Linked DNA regions of Homo sapiens. The protein of the gene in region 2 interacts with the protein of the main gene of each other region in a biochemical or structural test. Each region holds a gene or a part of one and is shown on either strand. Other genes may lie near its edges.

Region 1 (4,844 bases), on a different chromosome or scaffold from region 2:
GGACTGGGGTAGGGCAGGTGGCTCAGGGCACTGGCATGGGGGCCCACTCATGCCTGGGAGCATCGCATTTGGGGAGGGTCATGGCGGAGGGAGCCTGAACCCTGCCCAGTGTCTGGGCGCAGGGGGCTGTGGTGGGCAGCAGTGAAGGGGCCTGAGGAGTGCCGTGGGGAAGAGAGGGTGACCAGAGCCACTCTGAATGGCGTCAGCCAAAGAAGGACTCTGTCCCCTCCCCACCCTGTAGGGAGGTCTGAGCAGAGGGAGGCCCCCAAGAGTGCCATTGACCAAGAGACAGCAGACAGCCTGCCTCCTGGGGCGTGCCGGCACCTGCTTCAGCTACTGCCTCCTGTATGCATGAGCCGGATGCTGGGCAGGATCCCTGCCTACGCCCGGGCCCGATTTGCGCTTTGCCGGACTGGATGGAGTGGAGGAGGCCCAGGCCACAGTACCACCCCACCTGCCCAGGCAGCCCCTCGTCACCTACTCCCCGAAGTTACCAGCTCAGCTCGAGTCTTCAGGGCTGGGCTCCTAGGCTGCCCATCCTACTTCTACCCTCACTGGCCTCCAGTGGGATTCACTCCTGCCCTGCCCCCACCTTCCCAGTCCCACAGGCCACCCCTGGCTTGGGCTGGGTTCTGTGAAGTTACGTATTTATTGAGCTTTTGGTTCTTTTATAAAGACTTGTCTAGACTCCACTGGGAAGAGTCCTTTGCTTTGGGGCCCAGTGACTCGGGGCACTTGAGTTCAGGGCGGCCTCCTTGTGTTCCTGTGCTCCTCCACTTGCCACGGATGGGCCACGGATGGAGCTTGCCATGGGAAGCACTGGGAAGTAATGGGGTGTGGGGTGCCACCAGACCAACACCCCCAGACTTCCCCACCTTCAGCCACCATCAGAGCCTCTCCCCAGGTGCCCCCCGGGGATTCAGGGCTGAATCTGCCCAGTTCCCACACTCAGGCCAGCCCTCTTGGGAAGGTGGGTCCTCCATGGGGGTCCCTTCAGGAACTTTTTTTTTTTTTTTAATACAGAGTCTCACTCTGTCACCTAGGTTGGAGTGCAGTGGTGTGATGTCGGCTCACTGCAACCTCTGCCTCCCGGGTTCAAACGATTCTCCTGCCCCAGCCACTCTAGTAGCTGGAACTGCAGGTGTGCACCACCACGCCGGGCTAGTTTTTGTATTTTAAGTAGAGACGGCATTTCACCATATTGGTCAGGCTGGTCTCGAACTCCTGACCCCAAGTGTTCCGCCCGCCTCTGCCTCCCATAGTGCTAGAATTACAGGCCTGAGCTACTGCGCTTGGCCCCTTGCGGTACTTTTGGCCCAACCTCCTCCATGGCTGGGGACGCGGAGGCCGAGAGAGAAGTCACTTGCCCTGGCTCTACCTTGAAGTGGTTCTCAGGGTTGGGGCGAGAGTCGGGGTGGGGACCGAGATGCAGCTCTATCCTGTGCCCCTGGTCGCAGCAGGCAGCCCAGCGCTTCGCGTGTTCTACTTGGCCTGTCCGCTGCCGCCTAATGAGCTCAGGTCTAGGCCGAGCAGAGGGGGCACCTGGTCGGACTCGGTTGGGCTCGGGCGGCCCCGCCTCCCCCCGCCCGCCAGGCGGGCCCTTCTCGACGGCGCGGGGCGGGCCCTGCGGGCGCGGGGCTGAAGGCGGAACCACGACGGGCAGAGAGCACGGAGCCGGGAAGCCCCTGGGCGCCCGTCGGAGGGCTATGGAGCAGCGGCCGCGGGGCTGCGCGGCGGTGGCGGCGGTGAGTTGAGACGCAGGAGGCTAGGGGCAGCTTTGAGCCCTGTCCCAAGAGCCTCGGTGAAGGAAGGGGCCCCGGGCGCGTCTCCACTCCAAGCCTCACTGGGGGCTGGGTTGGCCGCCCTTTCCGATCTCGTTAAAGGCTCCTCCAGGGCGTAGCCCTTCCACTGAGAGGAAACCCCTCCCAGGAGGGTCTGGGGGCCCCAGGCAGAGCATTATCAGTGTCCCTCCCCCAACAGAAAGCATGGGTGGGGGTGGGGGCGCTGCTGGATTCCTGCTCTGGTGGAGGGGAAACTTGTGAGGGGCTGGTAAGCGCCCCCTCCGAAGCCTGGTGTGTGCGCGGGGGGAAGGAAGTTAGTTTCCTCTCCACCCATGGGCACCCCTTCTGCCCGGGGCCTGGGAAGTGGGCTGCTCTGTGGGCAAATGCTGGGGCCTCTGAAATGGAGGAGACGCAGCAGGGAGAGGCCCCACGTGGGCAGCTGCGCTGAGAGTCAGCAGCACCTGTCCCCCAGGCGCTCCTCCTGGTGCTGCTGGGGGCCCGGGCCCAGGGCGGCACTCGTAGCCCCAGGTGTGACTGTGCCGGTGACTTCCACAAGAAGATTGGTCTGTTTTGTTGCAGAGGCTGCCCAGCGGGTAAGTGGCCACAGGGGTGGGAGAGGCATGGGGCAGGCAGGGCTGGAGAGGTGGCGGGCAGGCCCGGGAGGTAAGAGGAGGCTGGCAGGGGAGGTAGGGGTAGGCTGACAGAGAAGTAGGGAGCTGGAGAGAAAGAGGGAGGGAGGGCAGGGTGGGAAGCAGGTCGGGGGTTGCTGGGCAGCCCCTCTGCCTGCCTGACCCCTGCCTGGTTCCACAGGGCACTACCTGAAGGCCCCTTGCACGGAGCCCTGCGGCAACTCCACCTGCCTTGTGTGTCCCCAAGACACCTTCTTGGCCTGGGAGAACCACCATAATTCTGAATGTGCCCGCTGCCAGGCCTGTGATGAGCAGGGTGAGGGGCTTCTCAGTGCTTGGCAGGGAGTTCCTAAGGACAGGCCTTTCTGAAGGAAGTGGCTGGCTCGGGCCCAAACTTGGGGTGTGAGGGTCCTGCACCCACCCTTGCCAGAACCCTCCACCCTGATCCTCCTTCAGGGTGCCCTTGCCCCTTCTCTCTTCCTGGTGACCTTCCCATCTCTCCATGTGCCTTGGCCTCTGGTCGGCCTTAATCTCTGAGCTTCTCTCTTTTTTAGGGTAGCCCTGTACCTGTCTGTCTTTCGCCTATTTCTGTCTCCATTATCTTGGGATAATGCCTCTGCCTCTCCATGGGAGCCTTTGGCCCTGACTAACTCTCCACTCCCCATCTCCCTGCACCCCCACCAGCCTCCCAGGTGGCGCTGGAGAACTGTTCAGCAGTGGCCGACACCCGCTGTGGCTGTAAGCCAGGCTGGTTTGTGGAGTGCCAGGTCAGCCAATGTGTCAGCAGTTCACCCTTCTACTGCCAACCATGCCTAGACTGCGGGGCCCTGCACCGCCACACACGGCTACTCTGTGAGTACCCCCACCCAGGGCTCTCTACTCCCAGACCCCCTTCTCCCTGCCTGACCCACTCCTGTCCCATGGTGACGCATGCCTCTCCTGGATTGCAGGTTCCCGCAGAGATACTGACTGTGGGACCTGCCTGCCTGGCTTCTATGAACATGGCGATGGCTGCGTGTCCTGCCCCACGTAATTCCTAGCTGTCGTGGGATGGAGGGAAGGGCGGCTGGGAGCAGAGCAGGGGCCTGGGGTGGGGCAGGTGCTGCTGGTTCAGGAATAGGAAGAGGGGATAGGGAGGAGGGAGCCTTGGCCCTGTGATGGGTGGGCCCCACTTCAGGCAAACTTAGATGGCAAAAGAGCAATCTGGATCCGCCTTAGCCAGATACATAAGGGTATTTGCCTTCACTTTCAGCCAGCATTCCCCCCAGCGATCCTAGCCAGATATTACAGATGATTTGTCACTTACACAGAGAGTCACATTGATATAGCTTTAAAACTTGGGCTGAAGGAGGTTGAGGCTGCAGTGAGCTATGATCGTGCCACTGCACTTCAGCCTGGGCAACAGAGCGAGACCTATTAAATAAATAAATAAATATTAAATCTATTAAATATTAAATATTAAATCTATTAAATAAATAAATACAAAGGGCTGAGAGTCAGGACTGTGCTGCTAGTTCTCTAGGGGATCTTGGGCAAGTGCAGAGAATTCGCGTCTCTGATGTGTGGTGTCCCTTTCTCAACATGGGATGTTAGCAGCTAATTCACAGGCCTTTGATCAGAGGTAAGGGACTTTCTGTAGCTATTCAAGTCTTTTTTTTTTTTTTTTTTTTTTTTTTTTGAGATGGAGACTTGCTCTGTCACCCAGGCTGGAGTGCAGTGGCACGATCTTGGCTCACTACAACCTCTGCTGCCTGGGTTCAAGTGATTCTCCTGCCTCAGCCTCCCAAGTAGCTGGGACTACAGGAGCCCACCACCACCCCCGGCTAATTTTTTGTATTTTTAGTAGAGACGGGGTTTCACCGTGTTAGCCAAGATGGTCTTGATCACCTGACCTCGTGATCCACCCGCCTTGGCCTCCCAAAGTGCTGGGATTACAGGCATGAGCCACCGCGCCCGGCCTCCATTCAAGTCTTTATTGAATATCTGCTATGTTCTACACACTGTTCTAGGTGCTGGGGATGCAACAGGGGACAAAATAGGCAAAATCCCTGTCCTTTTGGGGTTGACATTCTAGTGACTCTTCATGTAGTCTAGAAGAAGCTCAGTGAATAGTGTCTGTGGTTGTTACCAGGGACACAATGACAGGAACATTCTTGGGTAGAGTGAGAGGCCTGGGGAGGGAAGGGTCTCTAGGATGGAGCAGATGCTGGGCAGTCTTAGGGAGCCCCTCCTGGCATGCACCCCCTCATCCCTCAGGCCACCCCCGTCCCTTGCAGGAGCACCCTGGGGAGCTGTCCAGAGCGCTGTGCCGCTGTCTGTGGCTGGAGGCAGAGTAGGTGGTGTGCTGGGAATGCGAGTGGGAGAACTGGGATGGACCGAGGGGAGGCGGGTGAGGAGGGGGGCAACCACCCAACACCCACCAGCTGCTTTCAGT
Region 2 (4,226 bases):
AGACGGGGTTTCACCATGTTGGTCAGGCTGGTCTCAAACTCCTGACCTCAAGTGATCCACCCCCCTCAGCCTCCCAAAGTGCTGGGATTACAGGTGTGAGCCACTGCGCCCAGCCTCTTTTTTTTTTGAGACAGTCTTGCTCTGTCACCCAGATGGAGTGCAACGGCACCATCTCGGCTCACTGCAACCTCGGCCTCCTAGGTTCAAGCAGTTCTCCCTGCCTTAGCCTCCCAAGTAGCTGGGATTACAGGCACCTGCCACCACGCCTGCCTAATTTTTGTATTTTTAATAGAGATGGGGTTTCACCACATTGGCTGGTCTCAAACTCCTGACCTCAGATGATCCACCCACCTCAGCCTCCCAAAGTGCTGGGATTACAGGCATGAGCCACCGTGCCTGGCTTTTTTTTTTTTTTTTTTTTTTTGAGACGGGGTTTCTCTCTGTCACCCAGGCTGGTAGCCACCCCCTCCTCAAGCGATCCTCCAGCCTTGCCTCCTGTGTAGCTGGGACTACAAGCGTGTACCACCATGCCCGGCTAATTTTTGTATGTTTTTGTAGGGACAGGGTTTTGCCATGTTGGCCAGGCTGGTCTCAAACTCCTGGGCTCAACTGATCCACCCACCTCAGCCTCCCAAATTGCTAGGATTGCAGGCATGACCCACTGCGCCCAGCCAAGATCCCTTTACATTTGTTAAAAATTATCAAGGACCAGCTGGGCATGGTGGCTCACACTTATAATCCTAGCACTTTGGGAGGCCGAGGCGGGTGGATCAGTTGAGCCCAGGAGTTCGAGACCAGCCTGGCCAACATGGAGAAACCCTGTCTCTACTAAAAATACAAAAAATGCACTGGGCATGGTGGCACACACCTGTAATCCCAGCTACTTGGAGGCTGAGGCAGGAGAATCGCTTGAACCTGGGAGGTGGAGGTTGCAGTGAGCCGAGATCTTGCCACAGTACTCCAGCCTGGGTGACAGAGTGAGACTCTGTCTCAAAAAAAAAAAAAAAGTCAAGGACCCACACACCTTTTTTTAGTTACGTAGGTTATATCTATTGTTATTTACAATATGAAACTTTTTTTTTTTTAATTTTTGGAGAGAAGTCTGGCGCTTGTCCCCCAGGCTTGAGTGCAATGGCTCAATCTTGGCTCACTGCGACCTCTGCCTCCCGGGTTCAAATGATTCTCCGGCCTCGCCTCCCGTGTAGCTGAGACTACAAGTGTGTACCACCATGCCCGGCTAATTTTTGTATTTTTTAGTACAGATGGGGTTTCACCATGTTGGCCAGGCTGCTCTTGAACTTCTGACTTCAGGTGATCCACCCGCCTCGGCTTCCCAAAGTGCTGGGGTTACAGGCATGAGCCACCACACCCGGCCTACAATATGAAACTTTAAAATGTATTAATTAATTTTTAAATAGTAAACCCACTACATGTTAAGATAAATTACATGTTTTTCTTAAGAATAAGTTTATTTTCTACAATAAAAACGTTTTAGTGAGGCCAGGCATGATGGCTCTCACCTATAATCCCAACACTTTGGAAGGCCAATGCAGGAGGATCACCAGGAGTTTGGAACCAGCCCTGGTGACATAGTGAGACTCTGTACAAAAAAGAAATTTATTTATTTATTTATTTATTTTTTGAGACGGAGTCGTGCTCTGTCACCCAGGCTGGAGTGCAGTGGTGTGATCTCAGCTCACTGCAAGGTCCGCCTCCCAGGTTCACGCCATTCTCCTGCCTCAGCCTCCCGAGTAGCTGGGACTACAGGCGTCCGCCACCACGCCTGGCTAATTTTTTTGTATTTTTAGTAGAGACAGGGTTTTAACCATGTTAGCCAGGATGGGCTCAACCTCCTGACCTTGTGGTCCACCTGCCTCGGCCTTCCAAAGTGCTGGGATTACAGGTGTGAGCTGCTGTGCCCTGCCATCTGTACAAAAAATTTTAAAATCAGCTGGGCATGGTGGTGTGCACCTATAGTTCCAGCCACTCAAGAGGCTGAGATGGGAGATTTTCTTGAGCCCAGGAAATTGAGGCTGCGGTGTACCGTGATCACGCCACTGCACTCCAGCCTGGGCAACAGGGTGAGACCCTGTCTTTAAAAAAAGCAAAACGAAAAACAACCTTTTAGTGAGAAGAGTGGCATTGTTTTCATTTTTGCAAGTCTCTTTAATGTCTGGCTTAATAGAAGACAGTTGGATTCTCATCTGGTTCTGCATTCAGTCTGTCAAATATGTTGTTTTGGTTTAAGTTCATGAGGAAAACTCTTTTTTTTTTTTTTTTCAGGCTTTAATCAATTTAATAATCAATATAATATTACATGCATAGTTCTTCAAAAATGTCAAGGAAAACTCTTTCCCATGGATTTTAACTGCTTGAATTCAGAGCATAGAAAACAGAAGAAAACTTGAGTGCAATATTAATAAAGACCCTTTAAAAAAGATGTTATATAAAAAGAAAAATCGCAAGCCAGTGAAAAATACATGCAAAATTCTAAATAACATTTTAGCAAACAAAATCTATGCTTAAAAGCATAACACACAAAAAAGTGAGATTTTTCCCTAGTATGTAACAGTAATCAGACATTTTATCAAGACATTTACAAATAAGCCTAAAAATAGATGTCTGAGTGCTATTTATGAAATTCAAGATCTATTCCTCCCATCCAAGCACTAACCAGGCCAACCCTGCTTAGCTTCCGAGATCAGACAAGATCGGGCGTGTTCAGGGTGGTATGGCCAGAGGAAAACTCTTCACACAGGTATGTAGCTGGAAAAAGGAGGGAAATTTTAGTAGTCTTTTCAGCCACTTGTGGCTATTCTTTGATCCTACCCCCAGTTTAAACAAGTGGTGGTTTCTTAAAGGTTAATTGCAGTGTGGAATCTGAAATCATATCAGTGAATTCTTGATACTATTTCGTTAAAATCCATTAGTCTACCTTGCACTCATACTCATGCATGATTTTTTAGCGTATTTGGAAAATACTGGTTCACTGAGTTACACAGATATTCCAAGTGTCACATTTTCATGTACACATCATCACTCATCATATTGCATCTGGAAAAATCTTCTTTTCACTCGTGACTGAAAAGGATGAAAATGTCATAGTAGTATAATAAATGTACTGTGACCTCTCAGATCCTCTAGAGGGAACCCATAGGAGTCTCTGGAACACTCTTGTAGAACCGCCAGATAGAACTCCTAAATACCCTTTACCCCAGATTCAGGCTCACCGATTTTTTATCTTTTGCCCCATTTGCTTTATCATTCTTTGTGTGCATGTGTGTGGGCACTCCCACGCACTCTGAGTCATTTGAGAGTAAATTGTAGATACACCCCTTCACCTTGTTTCAGTATGTCTTTACTTCAAACCATGGTCCTGTTGTTCCCTGGGGACATGTGGCAGGGTTGTCACAGTGAGGGGTAGGGGTACTCCCTGCATCAAGAGGCCAGAGATGCTGCTAAAAATCCTACGATATACAGAACAGCCCTCCAAACAGAAACTTTCTCAGCCCAAAATGTTAGTCATACCGAGGTTGAAAAACCCTGCCTTAAGAGTATTCTCTAACATGACCACAGTACAGTTTTCAAAATCAAGAAACTTAATACTGATTCAGTATCTAATGCACAGTTTATATTCACATTTTAGATATTATCCCAATAACCTTTGAACTATACCCCACCCAAACCACCCCCCGACCTGGGCACAGGTTCACATGTTGTACTGTCATGAGTTTTGTTTGTTTGCTTGTTTGCTTGCTTGTTTTAAGACCAGGTTCGCAGGCCAGCCACAGTGGCTCACACCTGTAATCCCAGCACTCTGGGAGGCCAAGGTGGGTGAATCACATGGGGTCAGGAGTTCGAGATCAGCCTGGCCAACATGGCAAAACCCTGTCTCTGCTAAAAATACAAAAAATTTAGCTGGACATAGTGGCAGGCACCTGTGATCCCAGCTACTCAGGAGGCTGAGGCAGGAGAATCGCTTGAACCCAGGAGGTGGAGGTTGCATGAGCTGAGATCGTGCCATTGCACTCCAGCCTGGGTGACAAAGCAAGACTCCGTCTCAAAAAAAAAGGACGGGTTCTCATTCTGTCACCCAGGCTGGGGTACCGTGGCACCATCTCGGCTCACTGCAACCTCCGCCTCCTGGGCTCAAGGCCATCCTCCCACCTTAGCCTCCCAAGTATCTGAGACTACAGGCACGTGCTACTGCTCATGGCTGATTTACT
Region 3 (4,226 bases), on a different chromosome or scaffold from region 2:
TCAAGACGTCCAAATTGGACTCCTCATCTCCCTCCCCCAATATTCTCATTGTTTTTTTGTTTCTATCTCTTGGTTCAAGTCAGAAACTTCAGTTATCACTCTCACCCTTGTATATATAATCAAATACGAGTTTTATTTCTGTATCCTAAATCTTCTATCTCTTGAATCTAGCCACTCCCTCTTTGTGTACTGCTACTACCTCAGGACCACATCATACCCTTTAGCAAGTATAAATGAGACCATACATTATTGCAACTGCCTATTGACCAGTCACTTGTGTCCTTACCTCCTACTCTTTCAATCTGCAGACTCTATCTAGCATATTTTCATAGCACTCCCATGCTAATGGCCCTATAGTGGCTCTCCATAATTCCAAAACACCTTCACAGGCAAACAAAGCTCTTTGTGATTTGGTCTCTCTACTTACCTGGCCACATGCCTCACATTTTTTATTCTAGTATACTTTTGCTTTTTATACTTTTAGTAGAGATGGGGTTTTGCCACGTTGCCCAGGCTGGTCTCGAACTCCTGGACTTAGGCTATCCACTCACCTCAGCTTCCCAAAATGTGGGATTACAGGCATGAGCCACCGTGCCCGGCCTTTATTCTAGTATACTAAAAAAGGTGTAGGTTCCCAAATGTGCCATCCTTTCTCTCACCTCCAGGGCTTTGTTTTCTCTGTTGGAACGAAGACAACTTACACTTCACCTGGATGACTTCTTAGTCTTTCTTTAAATATTACTTCCTCCTGAAAGCCTTCCCTGACTCTTCTTGTTTGCTCCTCTAACATCTCATAACCACTTTTTTCTTAGCACGTACCATGTTTTACTGTAATTGCCTTTTTACTTTTCTATCTCCTTCACTAGATTATAAGGTTCTTGAGGTCAGGGGCTTTGCCTTGCTACTGAATGCCCACTTTCTTTTTTTGGAGACAGAGTCTCACTCTGTCACCAAGCTGGAGTGCAGTGGCATGATCTCAGCTCACTGCAAGCTCCGCCTCCTGGGTTCATGCCATTCTCCTGCCTCAGCCTCCCGAGTAGCTGGGACTACAGGCGTCTGCCATCACACCCAGCTAATTTTTTGTATTTTTAGTAGAGACGGGGTTTCACCATGTTAGCCAGGATGGTCTCAATCTCCTGACCTTGTGATCCACCCACCTTGGCCTCCCAAAGTGCTGGGATTACAGGCGTGAGCTACCGCGCCTGGCCCGAATGCCCACTTCTAACACAGGATTTGTCATAGGGTTAAAGATATGCAGATATAGATATAAATATAGATATGAAATAGAGGCATAGTAGGGCATGGTATAGAAGCCCCAGACCCCACAACTAAATAAGTGGTCATGAGAATGGGAGACATCTAAGAAGTATTGTGTCACAGTGGAGAGGGCACGAGGTTTGGGGCCAGACAGACCTAGACTTGAATTATAGCTTTAGGTCTTGTTATATACGTATCCTTGATACTGTTTTACAAGCTTTCTGAACTGTTCTTTCCTCATCTGTAAGAGAACTATAGTATGGCTAGAGATCTTTCAAAAATAATACATGAATAGTGATATTGATATAAACAGATATATTATTCATACATTTGATACTTGTTTTTTTAGCTCTACCAGGTAAAGTAGATGGCACAGATGTGTACTCTTTCTTAAAAGGTAGAACTTTTGAAAAATGCATAATTATGGAAGTCTCCTTATTAAAATTTATTTATTTATTTATTTACTTATTTATTGGGACAGGGTCTCACTCCGGTTGCCCAGGCTGGAGTGCAGTGGCACGATCACGACTCACTGCAGCCTTGACCTCCCGGGCTCAGGTGATTCTTCCACCTCAGCCTTCCAAGCAGCTGGGACTACAGGTGTGCACCACCACGCCTGGCTAATTTTTTGTATTTTTAGTAGAAATGGGGTTTAGCTATGTTGCCCAGGCTAGTCTCGAACTCCTGAACTCAAGCAATCTACCTGCCTTGGCCTTCCAGGGTGCTGGGATTACAGGCGTGAGCTACTGTGCCCAGCCTGCTTGTTAAAATTTAAAATTTTATTATCCTTTAGCAAGTATAAAAATGTGTTCAAATGATTTGGTTTCTGATTCCCTTTCATTTGTTTTGCAGATCTCTATTAAGAGAAAAATACAAAGAATAAATGAGTAAGGCTCTTGAAACCATTGAATTGTACAAACTTTGGTGGTTTTAAATCTGGATTTGTGAATAGCTGAGCCCGTTCACTGTCCCATTTTGGAGAACCATGAGGCATTCTACAATCTAGCCCTTCTCCAGGTGGATGCTTACCTGTCCGCCCAACCACATTTATCTGATTCTTCAGGGACCCGCTGACTGAGGCAATCATGATCTGGTACTGCTCCCCGGCCTCCAGTCTGTGGAACGTGTGCTCAAAGACGTGCTTGGGAATAGTCTGAGAGTCAACCTTTTGACTGTGCCTGAATGCCGACACCGTGTAGGAATCAACGTCTCCCCCACCAGGAGTCCAGTTCACCGTCAGGCTATCTGTTGCTCCATTGGGAGAAATGTGAATATTTTTGACAGCACTAGGAACTAAAACAGAAAATAAATTTAAAAGTCATCACTTAGAGAATGAACTGTTGAAATTTTCAAACAAAGTTTTGAATGCTTCTGATGTTTTGGCACCCACTGAGAGAACTCACATGAAAAAGAAAGTAACAATTTGCCACTTTTCTCTGATTTTTCTGTGTGAACTAAAGTTGATGGGGGAAAGCTTAGGGGGAAGTCAAAGCCGGTGAGTGGAAATGAGGAATGCTAATTATATAGCGAGGGGCTAGTTAGGGTGTCTTGGTCCAAGTTTTGGTTTTCTCACTCACTAGCTGTGGGACTACAGGCAAATTACTTGACCTCTGTAAGTTTTAGTTTCTTCATTAGGAAAAATGGCAGTGATGATAATACTAACCAGCCCATAGAGTTGTGAAGATTGATTCTTTTTTAATTTAATTTTATTTTATTTTTGAGGTAGGGTCTCTGTCTGTTGTCCAGGCTGGAGTGCAATGGCATGATTATGGCTCACTGCATCCTATACCTCCTGGGCTCAAGTGATTCTCCCACCTCAGCCTCCCCAGTAGCTGGGACTACAGGCACGTAACACCGTGCCCGGCTAATTTTTTTGTATTTTTTGTAGAGACAGGGTTTTGTCATGTTGCCCAGGCTGTGCTTGAACTCCTGGGCTCAAGCTATCCTCCTGCCTTGGCTTCCAAAGCATTGTGAAGACTGAACAAGATGTAGACATAAAATGCTTTGCTGTGGGTCTGGTTCATGGTGAACTGTCAGTACATGTTAACTACTATGGCAACACTCCTAAAAGAGTTCTAAAGAAGTGATACCCAAGTAACACTTAATTCTTAATCTGTGTGCCTCAGAAGCACCAGCTGATCACATCAGTTCATTGCTATTTCTCTGAAAGCACCCTCCAACCCCGCCACTCTCTGCTGACATCATACTTTATTTTCATTCATCCAGGTTGGACAACATCATTGTCACTATCAACATGACTTTGTCCCTTCTTGCTGTCTCCCTTTTATCCCTCCAAATGCTCAATCGAAATACCTGAACTACCCGAAAGTTAAATGCACCACTGCATCTATTCAGGTTCAAGAACAGTATTTCACATTACCTGTGAAGCCCTCAATGAAGGCTGACTGCTGTACATCCCCGCTAATCGTCAAGACAAGAATTTTGTATTGGCGGCCTGGTGTTAGGGAAGTAAATCGATACTCGGTTGCGGTATTTACAAGGTGAAAAGGAGGAAATACTTTCATGTCATTGAAGAGCAGCTGGATCTCATATTGGTCGACATCCCCATTAGCTCCTGACCAAGTCACATGCAAGTCCTCAGTGCTCCTGTTGCGCAATGTTAGATCCTTAACAGGCTCTGGAACTAGGGAGAAAAATGAGAAGACATTTCAGGAAAGGAACTGATCAGAGTTTACCTACATAATAATTTATGAATCACATTCAAGGAACTGGCAACATCTCCCTTCCCCAAATAAACCACTAGCACTACTTCATGCATAATTAAACAAGAAAAATTGGAAGCAACTATTAACATTGTGGTTTTTTCCTGACATAAATGTTACATGATCAGCATTGGTAGAACATAATTATAAAATGAGTTATGATCTCAATCATAAGATAAAACAAGAAGTCTAGAATCTAAATGCCATGATGCAGGAAGATAGGGAAGAAAAATGGGACATTTAGCC
Region 4 (4,226 bases), on a different chromosome or scaffold from region 2:
GGCCTTTGGCCAGGTAAACACATGCTACTGCTTGTCTCCCATTCTACTCCTCGTCCCCATCTAGGACAAAGGTTTGCAACCTTCCAGCCTCAACACCAGCAGGGTAAAAATCCCCATCTGTAGTAGCAACTAAATGACTAAACTAAGGCAGAAGTGGCAACACAGGGTGCAAGAGGGACTGGCCAACTGGTCACATTTAGTTTAAAAAATACCCAGATTCAGATATACACGCATCTGTGTCACTGCCTTGTTCATCCATTCTAAACCACAATCCACAACAGACCAATAAACAGGCAATAATACTGCAATGTGAAGAAGTTAAGCAGTTAGCTGGGCACAGTGGCTCACACCTGTAATCCCAGCACTTTGGGAGGCTGAGGCGGGCGGATCACTTGAGGTCAGCAGTTCAAGACCAGCCTGGCCAACATGATGAAACCCTGTCTCTACTAAAAATAAAAAAATTAGCTAGGCATGGTGGCACATGCCTGTAATCCCAGCTACTCAGGAGGCTGAGGCAGGAGAAACACTTGAACGTGGGAGACAAAGGTTGCAGTGAGCCGAGATCATGCAACTGTACTCTGGCCTGGGCAACAGAGCGAGGCTCCGTATCAAAAAAAAAAAAAAAAAAAAAGCAGTTAATCTCAGGTTGTTCTTTACCATTCTTTCAAACCCCACCTCTCAGCCATTTACTGACAATAGACACCTCTCCCTTCTTCAGCCTGGTCTACCACTTCTGCCCCAGAAGCCAAAAGAAAATCTATTTAAAACAAAAACAGGTCTGGTGCCAGTGGCTCATGCCTGTAATCCTAGCACTTTGGGAGGCTGAGATGGGTGGATCACTTGACGTAAGGAGTTCAAGACCAGCCTGGCCAACATGGTGAAACCCTGTCTCTACTAAAAATACAAAAATTAGCTGGGTGTGGTGGCACACACCTATAATCCCAACTATTTGGGAGGCTGAGGCAGGAGAACTGCTTGAACTTGGGAGGCAGAGGGTGCAGTGAGCCGAGATCACACCACTGCACTCCAGCCTGGGCGACTGTGAGACTCTATCTCAAAAAAAAAAAAAAAAAAAAAAGCCCACAAAAACAAAAATCTTCCTCCTTCATGGTTCTCATCCAATTCAGATCTGCCTGTGTATGAGTGGAGGTTGACAGCTTTCTCAGGCAAGGATGATAATGAAGTAAGAGAAATGGGTCAAAGCAGAAAGAATAAATAGTGTCTCCCTGTTACATATAGCTTTGCCTCTCTCCTCAGTACCCTGATAAAAGACCCCACCAAACCCAGTCTCTTAGTTTTCCTAACTTACCCCTTCCAAACTAAGCAAAGGCTATCTCACAGGTAACTCTGACAAACCTGACTTACCATGAGATAGGGAACATATTTGCTGCCATAAAACAGGGCCACACCAGACTGGTAATACAAATGTTATCCCACATACTCCTGAAGGGTCCTTCATTCTTTCTACAGTACATGAGCTTCAACTTAGCCTTACAGCCAATTTTCTGAAAACATACAATTCTGGTCCCAGTGGAGAACGTAGGGAGGGTTGGGGAACCTGTGTTTCTGAATAGTGGGAATGTTCACCTTTTCTGTTTCCTCATGAAGTCAACTCCAAACTAACTGCATTACAGCTTCCTGCCTAGGAGACCATGAAACAAATACACACATGCATGACATTTGACTGTGGAAGCCAAGAGGATGAAAAGAGGCTTTTTTGGGGCCGGGGGGAATGGGGTCTCCCTCTGTCGCCCAGGCTGGAGTGCAGTGGCACAATCTTGGTTCACTGCAACCTCCGCCTCCCAGGTTCAAGCAATTCTCCTGTCTCAGCCTCCCCAGTAGCTGAGACTACAGGTGTGTGCCACCACGCCCGGCTAATTTTTTGTATTTTTAAGTAGAGACGGGGCTTCACCGTGTTAGCCAGGATTGGTCTTGGTCTCCTGACCTCGTGATCCGCCTGCCGTGGCCTTCCAAAGTGCTAGGATTACAGGCGTGTGAGCCACCTTGCCCTGCTGAAAAGAGGCATTTTATAAGTTGCAATAAACAATATAAAAAGTCAGTTATACTTTATTAGAATACTTTAGAGCTCAGTCTCTGGATCATGATTTATACTAAGAATACAAGGGAAATTATCTAGGGTTTTCATCTCACCAATCTCATTTGAGGGGCAAATGTTGTCAGCTACATCCAAAACTGAATAATAATTACTCTTTCCAAGACAAAGAGGAACAACAGTATGTAACATGAATAGGAAGCTTTCAAGCAATGAAAATAAAAATAATGTCTTGGCCAGGCGCGCTGGCTCAAGCCTGTAATCCCAGCACTTTGGGAGGCTGAGGTGGGTGGATCACTGAAGGTCAGGAGTTCGAGACTAGCCTGGCCAACATGGTGAAATCCCATCTCTACTAAAAATACAAAACAGCTGGGCATGGTGGTGGGTACCTGTAATCCCAGCTACTAGGGAGACTGATGCAGGAGAACTGCTTGAACCTGGGAGGTGGAGGTTGCAGTGAGCCGAGATTGCGCCACTGCACTCCAGACTGGGCAAAAGAGTAAGACCTTATCTCAAAAAAAAAAAAAAAAAAAAGTTTTATTTTATGAAAGTGTTGACTTCCCAATTTAGCTTGGCCCCAATTTACCTACATCTTTCACTACTAACACTACCTCTGAAAACAGAAGGGGATCTGTGAAGCAATACCAGAACATTAGGCTTAGAATCCACAAGCCTTGGCAATCTCACTTTTAGCCCCTTTAGTCAAGTCACTTTACCTTTCTGAGTCTTTGAGTTGCATCTGTAACTGAGAACAATATCTTATAAAAGTATGATAAAAATAATGTTCTGTAACATGCTTCCCCCACCTGCTTGTCCTCAATATTCAAATCACTTCTAGAGAAATGAGCCAAACACCCTTTAAAATGAAACGTACACACATACTCACAGCAACATATTACCCAATTCATATAAGAATGTCATCTTGGTCAAATATTTTTCAGCTCATCTAATTAGAAGGAAGCAGTTTGTTTTTTCCATACTCACGTAACAAATGTTAAAACTAACATTTTAATGACTAATGACTGCACTTTATTTATAGTGCTTGCAAAGCAATGGAAAACAGCATACCTAGGTAAAGAACTTCTTTGAAAAAAAAAAATCTGGCTATCAAACAACGTTCTCCACATGTTTGGTAAGCACAAAGCCAAGAAATCATACCCAAGCTAAAACAAAGCTGAAGTCACATAATAAAAGATTGTTTACTGTAGTCAATGCAAAAGCAAGTTGATACTATTTACTCCTTTCAATCTGTAGATTGAAACATACCCGGCCAGTTATACTGATGTAATGCTGATTATAGAACTGAGCCTGAGGCAAAGCTGCACACCAAATTATTAAACTATCAACAAATTATGATTCTCAAGATGACAAAGTATACTATACACTAACAACCTTGGCTTTTGTATAAGTCTTAATCACATCTTAAAATTCTTTTTAGCTAGTCAGTAACATAAAAACCATGTTCACTCTTGTCTTTTATAAATGCATACTTAGATTCTCTCAGTTCTGAACATGTAACACTGTTAATTGTTGATGGGTTAACAAAATAATGGCCTCAGGATTTTTTAGTAACAATGACCTCTTATGGTATACATCTATTTTTACTATTTAAATATTTCCCCTTCAAATCAGGCATTTAGGTGGGTAGAAGGAAGGCTTTTACATTATCATTCCTTCTTATGATTGAAGAAATTATCAACTATTAACAAGTATCTTTTTTCTCAAAAAATACTATTATTATACACTAATGAAAAAAATTAGCCCTCAAATTTTCAAAATTACTCTTTAGAAGGCAATCACACCAAAAAGCACATATGTAGCTTTCACCCAGAGATGCCATTGGCACACAAATATTAACAGTGAAAGACAGCTTTTGTTTTACTAGAAAGACTTGTACAAAAAACATCAGTTCATGGATTCTACATACCCAAAAAACTGTCTTCAAATTAATTTAGTTTGGAAGTTTAATATCATCCTGAAAGTTGAAATACTTACTTACCAGTTATAAACAGTATGAAGGTTGTATAATGATATCCACCAAAACGGATCCATTCCACAGAAACTTTTATATAACACCTACTCTCAAATATTATTTCCATCTTTTTTGGCACTCAGAACTAAAATTTGCGTAAGCAGCGCAAGCAATGGAGATTTACCTCACTACATCTTAGTT
Region 5 (4,226 bases), on a different chromosome or scaffold from region 2:
CTATAGAGAAAATCTGTAAGGATATAACCTAAACTGTCAACACTTATTTTTGAGGTAATGGAAATTAGAGGAGACTCACTGCTTCAGACACTTCTGTATTATTTAATTTCTTTAAACAAATAGTTTGTTATTTATTTATTTATATTTGTTTTTTACTATCTACTGAAAGGATAAACAAACACTTTGAAGCATTATCCTAATCAGAAAAAATAAAGCAGTAATTTGAGGTTCACTCTAACCCAACGGTTAATCAGTGAATAAGATCTTCAAATATTTGTGGGTCAAATCCCGTCTCTCCCAGTTCTTCTCTGTGTGACCTCTTAACGTATAAGCCTCAGTCCCCCTATCTGTAAAATAGGGAACCCAACAGTCCCTGCCTCAGAGTGAAATTAGGAGAGATGGCAGACACACAAAAGTAGCACAGATCCTGATCCCAGGATAGGCCCCATGAATGTGAATGCCTTTTCCTCCTTCTGGACCCCTTCTGGCTGGGCCTGTAAGGGTGGGAGGTGGCTGGGAGTCTAGCACCTAGGTGGGAGTCGGGGTATACCTGGGGTCCTGGTCGAAGGTGAACTGTGTTCCTTGACCGTGGTGCACATCCCAATCTACGATAAGGACCCTAGGAGCAGCAGAGAGAGGGGACTCTGTGCAAGGAGATCAAGGTGAATCTGGGGGAAGAGCCCAGACCAGGACACCCCACCCCATGCCACCCCCATCACATCTGCCCTCTGTTGCTGACCTCCGGATGCGGTGTTTCTGTTGAGCATAGCGGGCTGCCACAGCCACGTGGTTGAACATGCAATAGCCATCCATAAGACTGTGCTGGGCGTGATGTCCAGGAGGCCTGGGCAAGACAAGGAAATAACAGCTTGGAGTATGTGAGGGGTCCTCCTCTGCAGAGACAGACTGTCCCCTGCTCTCTAATCCTGGACCACCAATTCCTTTAATGCTGATGCCTAAAAATCTGCCGGGAACTGAGTAATGGAGGCCCTCAAACTCTCACCCCCTGCCAATCTACCCCTCTGTCTCCAAAGGAGATTTGAAAATGTTCACTAAAATGATAAAGGCCGGGTGCGGTGGCTCAGGCCTGTAATCCCAGCACTTTGGGAGGCCGAGGTGGGTGGACCACGAGGTCAAGAGATCAAGACCATCCTGGCCAACACGGTGAAACCCCGTCTCTACTAAAAATACAAAAAATTAGCTGGGTGTGGTGGCGGGCGACTGTAGTCCCAGCTACTTGGGAGGCTGAGGCAGGAGAATCACTTGAACCTGGGAGGCAGAGGTTGCAGTGAGCCAAGATTGCATCACTGCACTCCAGCCTGGTGACAGAGCGAGACTCCGTCTCAAAATAAATAAATAAATAAAAATAAAAATAAAATGATCAACGCATTCATTCTCATACCCAGTCATTCTGCTGCAGGAACTTAGCCCACAACCTGTGTTTTAAAAAGGGTGAAGTAACATTTTTATTTTATGTTAGTGTAAAATAAAATTTTATTTTTATAAAGGTACTAGCATATTTGCTGTAGCATTTTTTTAAAACAGCAAATGACTGGGGAGAACCAAAATGCCCATTAGTCGGGGACTGATTAACATAGAGTGCATTTACACAATGGTGTTCTACCGGGCTCCAAGATACATACTGTTAGAGAAAGGTTTCCAAGATGTGTAAGTGAAAAGATGGTACGAAGGGAGTATGTCATGTTACTACCATTTGTGGTTAAAAACAGGGGAGGGAGGAGAAAGCTTTTGCATTTCATCAGTTCTGGGATGCCAATGATGATAAGATGTACCATGATTTTACATGCCAAAAACGAAGCAGAAAATACTGCCAATGGAATTCTGAGATGTCACTGTTTGTAAGATGCATCTGGATTTCAAGATGTTACAAATATGAAAAAATGTACACCTTAGAATCAATGAAATATGGTATTTATTTCTTGAATAAGACTTTGTGGGAGGACACATGAGTCAGTGGTTCCAATGACTACCTCCCATGAGAGGAGGCAGGTGTCTGGGTGACAAGGATGGGAGACAGATTTTTAATTATATTCTCTTTTTTACCTTTGGATTCTTGAATCACATGAATATATTACCCATATCAATACATTTTACACTTGAAGGAAGGACTTTAAAACAATGTAAAAAGTCAAATGCTGTAGAGTCCTACCTAATGATGGCCATGCCATTCCGGATCTCAGCCCCCAGGACCGCATCCACCAGCCTGAGGACAGAGCCTGAGGCCAGGCAGGCACAGGAGTATGAGTTCTGGAGAGACAGTGGGGAGCCAGAAAGGGAGTAAGGGAGAGAACAGCCCTATCCACTCAGCTGCTTCCCCCAGGGTGGGGTGGGCATAGGGATGGGGACCCCAAGATTGCCACCATTCCCTGCCCGCAGAGTTCTCATCCATACCGGATGCAGATAAACTGAGTCGTAGGTGTCTGCTAGGACACGGAGTTCTCCCTCATTCATGTACTGGGTTGTTTCCATCAGATCAATATATTCTAGGCTAGACACAGATGGGAGATGAGATTCAGGGCCCTGTCTCTTCCCCAACTGAGCTGTCCATACACCAACCCCCTGGTCAAATTAGGGCTTGGCTCCCCCAACTGTCAACCTGAAGGAATAGCCAGGATATAAGACACATTCTGTTTCTTCCCTAGCCCGCCTCAGTTCAGGTAATGTTCTCTGCTCCCCTGCAGTAGCCACACCAAATCCTACTTTCAGGCCTTTGGCCACACTGGTTCAGCTGTCTGTTCTTCCCTTCCCTCAGTCACCCTCTTCATCTGACTCACTCTTTTTCTCCTCTTAAAGTTCAGCTCAGATACCTGCTCTGGAAGCTAGCTTTCCTCAAGCCACATAGCACTAGGCCTCTAAATCTGGAAGCCCCTGGGGGAACCCCGATCACTCTGTCCACACATCCACCATCTATTCACACAATCAGATCATGATAACAGTAATAGCTCATCATGGGCTGATTATATATCAGGCCCTGTTCTAAGCACCTGACACACATCAAACTCTCCTGAGGAACTTATGTTTACTGGTCCCCTTGTTACAGGCGATGACACAGATTCAGAAAGGCTCAGCGACTTGCCCAAGGCTGGCTGCAGAGACCATGACATTGCTTCCCAAAGCGTTTAGCTTGCCCTGGTTTGTCCAGGGCAGGCTCCTCCCCATCCCTACAAGGCTCCCAAGCCTTCACCTGTGAACCAACATCAGCTCTTCCTTTTCAGCAAACCGGGCCTGGGGAGAGATGAGGAATAAAGTGGGGTAAAGGGTTAAGGCATGGGCTGCACCCAGGTCAGGTCAGCTCCCTGCCCTTCACCCAGAGTGTTGGCTTGGGGGCCTTACCTGAAAGGACACGCAGCGATCTAGGAGGCCCTCCTGGATCAGTTGCTCCTTGATGGCATGGAGCCGCTCAGGGCCTTCCGGGAAGCTGGGGAGATGGAGTCACAGTCACAGATGCATGAGGACACTGGGGAGCTCCACATCTGTTCTCTCCACATCTCCCCATCCACCCTTCCACAGCTGCTTACCCCAAAACTGTGGTGTCAGTCCTGCCTCCCATCAGCTCTGGTGTGTGACCCTCTCCTCACCACTGCCACTGCTATTACCATACCCTCCCGCCTGGGCTGTGGCGGCATCTCCTCGGCCTCCCTGCTTCGACCCTCGCCACCTCAACGGTCCTTTCTGTGCATAGCAGCTAGACACTGGTTAAAACCCTAATCAGTTCATGTCCCTTCGAGGCTCCCATCCCATTCTGAGTAAAAGCCAAAGTATTACCCATGCCCAGAAGGCCCTAAACAATCTGTCCTCCATCACCTCTCTGACCCCATCTCCTACCCCTCCCTCTTTCCTTTGCTTCGCTTCACCTACACTGGTCTCTTCCCTGGTTCTCAGTTGAACCAAATACTCTTCAGCCAGCCCTAGAACTTTACTCTAGCTGGCCCCCCCACCCCCGCCTAGAATACTCTTCCTCCAACTGTCTCCATGACTTACTCCTTCACCTCTTCAGATCCCTGCTCAAATAGTGAGGCCTTCCCTGACCAGCCTATTTAAAATTGAAGTCTCCTCCACTGTACTTTCTCCTACTATCCTCCCTTTACTGCTTCTTCATAACACTGCTCTTTCTACCACAGTGCATCATTTACTTTTTGTTTATTTATTGTCTGTCTTCCCCCTTTACCCTGAAGACACAGGCTTTTGTTTGTTTTGTTTACTGC
Region 6 (4,226 bases), on a different chromosome or scaffold from region 2:
AAGAAAATCATTGAGAAAGGTTATATGCCTGCACCAGGTTTTTAATGCAGATAGAAGTGTACTATTCTGGAAAAAACAATGCCACAAAAGATATTTATTAGTAAGAAAGAGAAGGGAGCACCAGGATTAGGGCAGGAAGGGATAGGCTAACTCTACCGTACTGAGCAAATGCAGTCAGGTTTATGATAAGGACTGCCCTTATTTATAAAGCTTTTAACCCCAGGGCCCAAAGGAAAAAGATAAACACCAGCTGCCTGTCTTCTGGTTACACAAGAAGAAGACCTGGACAATGACAGACCCCCTTCTCTGAATTGGTTCCACTCATGCTTTGTCCCTAAAGTCAGAAAGTACCTTGCTAGTAAAGGGGCTGCCCTTTTTTTTTTTTGGAGACAGTCTCGCTCTATCCCCCTAGCTGGAGTGTAGTGGCATTATCTTGGCTCACTGCAACCTCTGCCTCCCTGGTTCATGTGATTCTCATGACTCAGCCTCCTGAGTAGCTGGGATTACAGGCGCCTACCACCACGCCCAGCTAATTTTTGTATTTTTAGTAGAGATGGGGTTCTGCCATGTTGACCAGGCTAGTCTCGAACTCCTGACCTCAGGTGATCTACCTGCCTCGGCCTCCCAAAGTGCTGGGATTATAGGCATGAGCCACCGTACCTGGCCAAGGGGCTGCCTTTAAAGTTCTTTTGACTTTAGACACTGTCCCTGGCCACCCAGAACCCAGGAGTTCAACATGGAAGGTGTCAAAGCAGTCTACTTGCTCCCAAACATGTTTCTAATTCAGCCTTTAGATCAGGAGTCATAAGGACCTTTACGGCTCAATAGAGATGATACTTTGTGAAAAGAAAATGTCAACACTGTGGAAGAGAACCCCAACAGAGAAAATATCATGAAAGTTTTAAAGGATAACACACTGAAGAGGCCATCCCTTCTTTTTCATTACAGAAAAAGTTATGAAAGCCATCAAGGCTGAAATAATAAATTCCTGTTGGAGGAAACTCTCCAGATGTTGTGCATGATGTCACAAAATTTGTAACAGAGCCAATCAAAGAAATCATGAAAGAGATTGTGGATATGGCAAAAAAAGTGGGATGAAGGGTTTCAAGATACGGACCTTGGAGAAATCCAAGAGCTAATAGCCACCATATCAGATAAATTAACAGAAGATGACTGGATGGAGATGAGTGCTTCCAAACCAGTGCCAGACGATGTGGAAAAAGAATGTAGAACTAGCAGTGTCAGAAAACATATTGGTAACAGACTATCTGGTGGAAGGGTTCTGATTACCCAAGACTGCTTTTGATTTCTTTTATGACATGGATCCTTCTCTTACATGGGCACTGAAACTATAGCAAACGGTGGAAGGAAGATTGGTAATGTATAGAAACATTTTTAGAGAAATGAAAAAGCAAGTCAGACAGAAATTAGGCTGTATTTCGTAAAGTTACATTGAGTGTGCCTCCCTCTTCTGCCTCCCCTTCTACCTCTGCAACCTGACCCAGCAAGACCAACCCCTTTTCTTCAGCCTAGGTAATGTAAAGACAAGGAGGATGAAGATGGTTGTGATGATCCACTTCCATTTAATGTACAGTAAACGTATTTTCTCTTCCTTATGATTTTCTTAACATTTTTTTCTCTAGCTTACTTTATTGAAGGAGCACAGTATATAATACAGATCACAGACAAAACGTATGACAATCTACTGTGTATGTTATTGGTAGGGCTTCTAGTTAACAGCAGTAGTTAAGTTTTTGGGGAGTCAAAAGTTACACATAAATTTTCAACTGTGGGGGGAATCAGCAACCCTAACCACTGTGTTGTTTAAGGGTCAACTGTAGTTCTCAACTCTCTTATTTTAACTTGTTTCTGCCATAGTTAATTACAAATTCAATTTCTACAAATATATGACAAAAAATTGAAATTTGTGTATCCAAACTTGTGAATTATCCAAATTTATTTTAAATACAGTGTGTTAAGCTAAATATTCAACGTTAACCTTAATTTTCCTGATATATATCCAAAGACCTATTAAAATTTTATAAATAATCATTAAGCTAAAAAGCACTAATATAAAAACCTACTCAATATGGAATACACATTTTTAAAAAACTATCTATTAAATATCTAGATTTTATGAATTCGTTTAGTTGTAACTACCACTTGTTGATCAACACACTCAAGTATTTTGAAGGAACTCTTGTGAGACTGGGAAAGTATACTTAACTAATGGAATATTATTGTATAATGATATAAATATCTGAAAATCCTTTCTTTTATAGAAATAAAAAAATTTCAAAAACCATTAAAAAAAAAAGAACCCAAAACACCTTTTTTTTTTTTTTTTTTTTTTTTGATACGGAGTCTAGCTCTGTCGCCCAGGCTGGAGTGCAGTGACGCAATCTTGGCTCACTACAACCTCCGGCTCCTGGGTTTAAGCAATTCTCTGCCTCAGCCTACAAAGTAGCTGGGATTACAGGTGCGTGCCACCATGACTGGCTAATTTCTGTTATTTTTAGTAGAGACGGGGTTTCACCATCTTGGCCAGGCTGCTCTTGGACTCCTGACCTCATGATCCACCCACCTCAGCCTCCCAAAGTGCTGGGATTACAGGCGTCAGCCACCGTGCCTGGGCACCAAAGGAAACTTCTTACCATTAACTGCTTCAGAGTCAAGTTCACCTGACTACATCAGCTGTATTATATACTACAGTCTATGTTTATGTATTTTATGTCTCTGCCTCCTTCAGTCTGTTTATAAATATAGGCTGAGTATATGTTCTTATATTGAATGCTTATTATATAGCAAGGATGTCCATATGAAATAAAGAACAGTAGTTCAGCCTTTGCAAATATTTAAAGTGCTTCCAATTTGACATTATGTACAGCATTGTAGTGAAAATCTTTGCATGTAAAATCTGGTCCAAATTACTACTTCTTTGAGATGTTCTTCACTTGTGCACTTTCTAGACACTTCTTTAAACACTTGACAATGATTTAAAGATAAATGAGTAGGAGAAATAATAGGATATGACAACTCTATACTCAACCATAACAAAAAAATATCAGCAACAGAAATGGGCTGAGCACTAACTCCTAGCACTAACAGAAGAAAAATAAAGGAATGGAGCTAAAAGCTACAAGCACTTCTTCATACCTGTTAAGTATTCAAGTTCTTGAGATAGTCTCTCATTGGTTCTAATTAAGTCTCTTTTCTCAGCTTCTAATTCTTCCTTTGTTCTTGTAAATTGGCTCTGTCATATAAAGAAGTAATAAGTAAGAAAATCAAGTAGAGCAATACAGGAAAGCGAACATAGAATTGTCACTTTAGTTAACATCAGCTGTAGTGTAAATGACTGGCTTTCTCTTATAACTTACACATCAAAGTTAAAAAATACCCGTAATTCCAATGTTTCTATTTAAATTTTGGATTTTTAAAACATTTTTACTAGGCTTATGAAAATTTTTCTCATATCTCTTTTAATCACATGGAAATGTCCTAATAACTTAGAATATCACTGTATTTACACCTTAGTTCAAATTATTTTTCAAGAAAGATTCCTAAAAATTGAATTACTTAAAACTTTTAATATATTTTGTCAGCCAGGTGCAGTGGCTCATGCCTGTAATCACAGCACTTTGGGAAATCAAGCTGGGCCGATCATTTGAGTCTAGGAGTTCAAGACCAGCTTGGGCAACACAGCGAAACCCAGTCTCTACAAGTAGAAAAAAACAGCCAGACATGGTGGCACATGCCTGCGGTCCCACCTACTCAGGAAGCTGAGGTGGGATGATCATTTGAGCCCGGGAGGCAGAGGTTGCAGTGAGCCAAGACTGCATCACTGCACTCTAGCCTGAGTGACAGAGTGAGACCCTGTCTCAAAAACAAAAAACTTGTCAAACTGCTTCCCAGCAAAACAATGGCAATCTACATGTTTTTGAGTTAGAAATATCTATCTCAAGCTACCTATGTCAGAACTGTAGGTTGCCTTTTAATATTCTTGTTTCCTGTGTAGAAGCTTTTTAGTTTGATGTAGTTCCGTTTATTTCTTTTTGCAGCTTGAACTACTGATGTGATCCAAACAATCATTACCAAGGCCAATGTCAAGAACCTTTCCCCTATGTTCACTTCTCTGAGTTTTATGGCTTCAGGTCTTACATTTAGATCTTTCATCCATCTTGGCTTGATTTCGGTATATGATGTAAGCAACACAAACATCCAACATT
Region 7 (4,226 bases), on a different chromosome or scaffold from region 2:
TGAAACCCCGTCTCTACTAAAAATACAAAAATTGGCCTGGCATCCTGGTGCGTGCCTGTAGTCCCAGCTACTGGGGAGGCTGAAGCAGGAGAATCACTTGAACCCAGGAGGTAGAGGTTGCAGTGAGTCGAGATCATGCCACTGCACTTCATCCTGGGTGAAAGAGCGAGACAAAAAACAAACAAACAAACCAAAAATCAAAAAAAAAAAAAACAAAACCCTGAAATGCAGAGAGGAGCTGTAACGTGTCCAAGGTCACACAGCCTGGGAATTGGGTCCTGGTCTCCTCTGTGCTCCCGCGTTGTCTTCTAGTACAGTCTGCAGGGTTCACCTTTTCCCTGACTCAGTCTTCTCCTAAGAGTGACAAAGAACTTTGTGAAAAGCCTCCTGCAGTCTCAGGATCATGGATTTTCTGCCCAGAACCAAACCCTGTATGGGCTCTGCCAGGTCACAGGGAGGCAGCGGGTCCCACAAGGACTTTCCAGAAACCTTGCCCAGAGCTTAGACCAGTGGGATCTAGAGCCTGGGCAACTTCAGCAGGGCCCCAGGGGTGGCCAGGACTCATCCTTCATGACCACCAGCCCCTGCCCGGGCTTCACGACGCTCCCTGAGCTCCAGCAGTCTAAGCCTCTCGCTTTTTTGGTGACCTGAGCACCCCGGGACATGGGCCAGACGTACCTCCTCTGGAACCTGCAAAATAAAGGAGATGCAATTCAGATGCCGGAAAAGCAGTGTAAGAAAATGCATCACTGTGCTCTTCTCTTCCGCTGCCCCCGTTTTCTCTGTAGCATTAGCAATATCAACTAATTCAACCGAGTAACTGTTTTCCAAGGAACTCAAAGCCTCTCCAACACTGAAGAAAATCCTCTTATGTTGATAAGCCCTCACCTCCCTTCCTAACTTAGAGTATAAATCTCAGGCATGGAGATGTGAAGAGACTTGTCTAAGGTGGCAAAGCCCATATCGGCCTCCCACGCAGGGAAAGAGGGCCAGGCGGGCCCTGTTGGAGGAGGCAGCAGGCGAGGTGAAATACACCTGGGGCTAGGAGCCAGCAGTGCCGGCCTCTGTCAGCCAGGTCCAGTGGTCCGGTCTGCATTTCCTTGAGCAAGTCCCCTCTCCTCTCTGGCCTCAGTTTTCTTGTCTCAAAAATAGGACCCAGTGATCCCCAAGGTCCGTCCCAACTCTGAAAGCCCGTGGCTGCATTTCCAAGCCCATAAGCCGGTGGGAGGGAAGCTGTGTATCACAATTCCATTTGCATTGTCCTTGGATCGATTCTGTCCCAGATCCGAAGTCCTCAGCTCCTGTTTCAGAGACGGAGGGGTTTAGGCCTATGTGCATTTTTACAACTGATGGTATTTGCCCAGCTGCCTTTCTCAGGTGGGTGAGCAGGTAGAAGTCAGTGTTCCATGGGTGGCAACGTTGCCAGTGGTGAGCACAGAGCCTCCTCTCCTGACACCTCGTCTGGATTCTCCCAGGGGTGTGCTGGGAAACTGGCTCTTGGGAGAGGGTGGAAGCTCTGATTTGTACTATTTGCCACTTTCCATGGTGTAAACAGGTCCCTGCCAGGGCCATTTTTCAGGCTGCTGAAGGACCTCAGCAGACATGGGTCAGAGAAAAGAGATGGGCTTTGGGAGCCGGGAGGAGCCAGCTCCAGCCCATCAAACCGAAATGCATCCCCAGTCAGTGCCCTAAAGCCTTCCTTTCATCCCTCTCCTCGCATGGCTACCTGCAGCCCACGAAAGCTCTTTCTTGTTTTGCAGAAGGGAGTGGGGAGAGCCCAGGGGCCCAGCGTGTTGGGTGAGTTCTCAGTGCCCCAGCCCCAGCCTGAGGGCGGAGAGGAGACTGCAATGCGGCTGCCCTCTGGCTGTGGCTCAGAGTGAAAGGAAAACACGCATACAGCAGGAGTCTGTGTAGGGATCTGGGCTCCAGCCATCAGAGCCCTGGGGGGAGCATCATGACCAATGTTCCCCTGTCCCCAAGCTCTCCACCATCCAGGCCAATGACTTTGCCGAGCTCTGAGCAGCTGCACCCATGGACTCAGTCCTGCCCTCACAGTATTGCCTGATGTGGCCCAGTATATTCTGTTCTTTGAAGATGGGTAGGCTGACCAGAATGCCAGGCCTGGAGGATGTGAGAAGGGATGTGGAGGCCATTTGAGAGTGGAACTCCCTGCAGGCTGGCTGTGGGGGGCCCGTGAAGGGCTTAGAAGGCCCCACAACCCAGAGCCACTGCAGGGGCCTCCCTACGGGGGCTACTCCTGAGCCTGGCCAGGCTGGTAGTTTTGTTTTTCCTTGGCCAAGCTCCCGGTCTGGGATCCCATCCCCAGTTCTGCCTCTGGGGTCAGCTTTCCATGCAGGGGCTGAGATGAACACATGGGGAAGGGAGGGCAGGAGCCCCTGCGCTCTGCACCTCATAGATGCCAAAGCCGATGGTGTGCATGTCCTCGCCCATCTTCCTCTGCCGCCGTCGGTGCTTCTGAATGAGCCCCACCAGGAAGGTGCAGCCGCTCTCCCCATCCTCCTCGTCCTCATCCTCCTCCTCCAGCTTGATCAGGTACTGAGGGTTCATCCAGAATGTGTCTGCAGCCAGAAAGGGGCAGAGGAGCCCAGCCCTGAGCAGGAATGCATGGGGGTGGGGGGTGGCCCTGGTCTCAGGCTTGGAGGCTTCTGAGAGGGATGGAGATAAAGGGAGATGGTGGGAGGTGGTGGGAGATGGTAAGAGGTGGTGGGGGATGGTGGGAGATGGCAGAGTATGGCAGAAGATGGTGGGAGACAGCGGGAGATGTCAGAAAATGGCGGGAGATGGTGGGAGTTGGCAAGAGGCGGTGGGAGGCTGTGGGAGACAGTGGGAGATGGTGGGAGATGGCAGAGGATGGCAGAAGATGGTCAGAGACGGCAGGCGATGTTGGGAGAGGCTAGGAGGTGGGAGACACCAGGGTTGGAGTGTGGACTGCAGGCTTTGTTAGGCTGGAGACGGGTGACGGTAGCTGTGGAGAGAGGATGACCTGCACTTGTCTGAATCTAACAGGAACCTAAATTAGAAACTTTCTCTTGCAGTTCTCTCTCTGGCTCCAGGCTGGCTTGTCTTGGGGACTGGTCTGTCACTCTGGAACGCAGGGTGGTTAGAGCTGTGGCTTCCCCTCATGGTACCTTCTCTTCACTGGGCTCTGATGGGGAGCCTGGGGCGGGGCTCGGCTGGCCTGGGGGACTCCGGGATCTGCTCCCTGCACTTGCCGGTCGCCGCCCCCTCGGTGAGCCCGGAGGCCAAGAACATCCTGTGTATAATTCCAGACTCTTTCTTGTTCTGCGTCCCTTGTCCTCTCAGGCCTATTCCCTTGCCCTGCTCCTGATGTCTCTGCCCTCTTTACTTCCAAAACCTATTTATTTAAAAAATCTAAGATTCATTCATGTTTAAGGGGAATTATGCTAATTGCCTTTCCATACCTAATGGGATAAAACCCTAACTGTGAAATTACAGGCACCATCTTGTGTAGGGGTTGGCAGCTATGGCTCCGAAGGCCGCTGCCTGTTTTTGTAAATAACGTTTTATTGGAACGTAGCCACGGCCATTCGCTTAAGTATGGCTGCCTTTGGGTTATAGCAATAGAGTTGTTGTTATAGAGACTGAGTGGCCCACAAAGCCAAAATTATTTACTATCTGACCCTTTAGAGGGAGTTTTCCGACTCCTGATCTAGTGGGTAGGAGGGGTCCCTTGTGGGGGGCAGAGGGCCTTCCCAGCGCCTCTGGGACTGCCACTTGGTGGCTGCATACTTGAGGTGAAGGAGTCCGAGCCCCAGAACTGTAGGCCAGCTAGCCGCAGTCTGACTACTTGCTCTGTGGCCCTGGTATGCGACTTAGAGGCTCAGCTTCCTCATCTGTCACAGAGAATCACTATGTGACCATGATCTGCTGCCACTGTACTTACACAGTGACTCCTCAGTCAGGGGGCCTGGGTTCAAATCCCAGCACGCTCTGTGGCCTTCAGCAAGTCACTAGCCTCTCCAAGCCTCAGTTTCCTCATCTTAGAGATGGAGGTGATAAGAAAGTGCCTGCCTCAGAAGTTTGTTGGGAAGGTTAGATAGAATGTTATGCAGGCTGAATATCCCTTATCTGAAATTCCTGGGGCCAGAAGTGTTTCCTATTTTGGATTTTTTTGGATTTTGGAATATTTGTATATACATAACATATCTTAGGGATGGAACTCAAGTCTAATGACAAAACTCATT

What was found.
Region 1: of the proteins of MAPK1 (region 2) and TNFRSF25, one has a biochemical effect on the other in vitro, tested with the Homo sapiens proteins (one study listed by BioGRID).
Region 3: of the proteins of MAPK1 (region 2) and PTPRB, one has a biochemical effect on the other in vitro, tested with the Homo sapiens proteins (one study listed by IntAct).
Region 4: of the proteins of MAPK1 (region 2) and PPP2CA, one has a biochemical effect on the other in vitro, tested with the Homo sapiens proteins (2 studies listed by BioGRID and IntAct).
Region 5: the proteins of MAPK1 (region 2) and HDAC6 form a complex in vitro, tested with the Homo sapiens proteins (2 studies listed by BioGRID).
Region 6: of the proteins of MAPK1 (region 2) and TPR, one has a biochemical effect on the other in vitro, tested with the Homo sapiens proteins (2 studies listed by BioGRID).
Region 7: of the proteins of MAPK1 (region 2) and CAPN2, one has a biochemical effect on the other in vitro, tested with the Homo sapiens proteins (one study listed by BioGRID).

What each region holds. Positions count from the first base shown.
Region 1 is NC_000001.11:6,462,970-6,467,813, reverse strand, and holds the start of TNFRSF25 (tumor necrosis factor receptor superfamily member 25 isoform 2 precursor), read left to right. Parts: upstream 1-1,640; 5' UTR 1,641-1,706; coding exon 1,707-1,745; intron 1,746-2,253; coding exon 2,254-2,374; intron 2,375-2,591; coding exon 2,592-2,726; intron 2,727-3,094; coding exon 3,095-3,262; intron 3,263-3,360; coding exon 3,361-3,439; coding exon of another isoform or gene 3,440-3,443; exon of another isoform or gene 3,444-3,703; intron 3,704-4,666; coding exon of another isoform or gene 4,667-4,686; coding exon 4,687-4,742; coding exon of another isoform or gene 4,743-4,749; intron 4,750-4,843; coding exon 4,844-4,844. Other genes in the region: PLEKHG5 (pleckstrin homology domain-containing family G member 5), read left to right, coding at 242-251. UniProt on the Homo sapiens protein: Receptor for TNFSF12/APO3L/TWEAK. Interacts directly with the adapter TRADD. Mediates activation of NF-kappa-B and induces apoptosis. May play a role in regulating lymphocyte homeostasis.
Region 2 is NC_000022.11:21,790,951-21,795,176, reverse strand, and holds part of MAPK1 (mitogen-activated protein kinase 1), read left to right. Parts: intron 1-4,226. UniProt on the Homo sapiens protein: Serine/threonine kinase which acts as an essential component of the MAP kinase signal transduction pathway. MAPK1/ERK2 and MAPK3/ERK1 are the 2 MAPKs which play an important role in the MAPK/ERK cascade.
Region 3 is NC_000012.12:70,567,389-70,571,614, forward strand, and holds part of PTPRB (receptor-type tyrosine-protein phosphatase beta), read right to left. Parts: intron 4,063-4,226; exon of another isoform or gene 3,902-4,062; coding exon 3,638-3,901; exon of another isoform or gene 2,551-3,637; coding exon 2,287-2,550; exon of another isoform or gene 2,110-2,286; intron 1-2,109. UniProt on the Homo sapiens protein: Plays an important role in blood vessel remodeling and angiogenesis. Not necessary for the initial formation of blood vessels, but is essential for their maintenance and remodeling. Can induce dephosphorylation of TEK/TIE2, CDH5/VE-cadherin and KDR/VEGFR-2.
Region 4 is NC_000005.10:134,219,401-134,223,626, forward strand, and holds part of PPP2CA (serine/threonine-protein phosphatase 2A catalytic subunit alpha isoform), read right to left. Parts: intron 1-4,226. UniProt on the Homo sapiens protein: Catalytic subunit of protein phosphatase 2A (PP2A), a serine/threonine phosphatase involved in the regulation of a wide variety of enzymes, signal transduction pathways, and cellular events.
Region 5 is NC_000023.11:48,804,651-48,808,876, reverse strand, and holds part of HDAC6 (protein deacetylase HDAC6), read right to left. Parts: intron 3,440-4,226; coding exon 3,355-3,439; intron 3,247-3,354; coding exon 3,206-3,246; coding exon of another isoform or gene 3,202-3,205; exon of another isoform or gene 2,510-3,201; coding exon 2,413-2,509; exon of another isoform or gene 2,269-2,412; coding exon 2,171-2,268; exon of another isoform or gene 1,917-2,170; intron 845-1,916; coding exon 740-844; intron 620-739; coding exon 551-619; intron 1-550.
Region 6 is NC_000001.11:186,364,730-186,368,955, forward strand, and holds part of TPR (nucleoprotein TPR), read right to left. Parts: intron 3,254-4,226; coding exon 3,157-3,253; intron 1-3,156.
Region 7 is NC_000001.11:223,753,833-223,758,058, reverse strand, and holds part of CAPN2 (calpain-2 catalytic subunit), read right to left. Parts: intron 2,580-4,226; coding exon 2,410-2,579; intron 691-2,409; coding exon 679-690; intron 355-678; coding exon of another isoform or gene 328-354; exon of another isoform or gene 1-327. UniProt on the Homo sapiens protein: Calcium-regulated non-lysosomal thiol-protease which catalyzes limited proteolysis of substrates involved in cytoskeletal remodeling and signal transduction. Proteolytically cleaves MYOC at 'Arg-226'.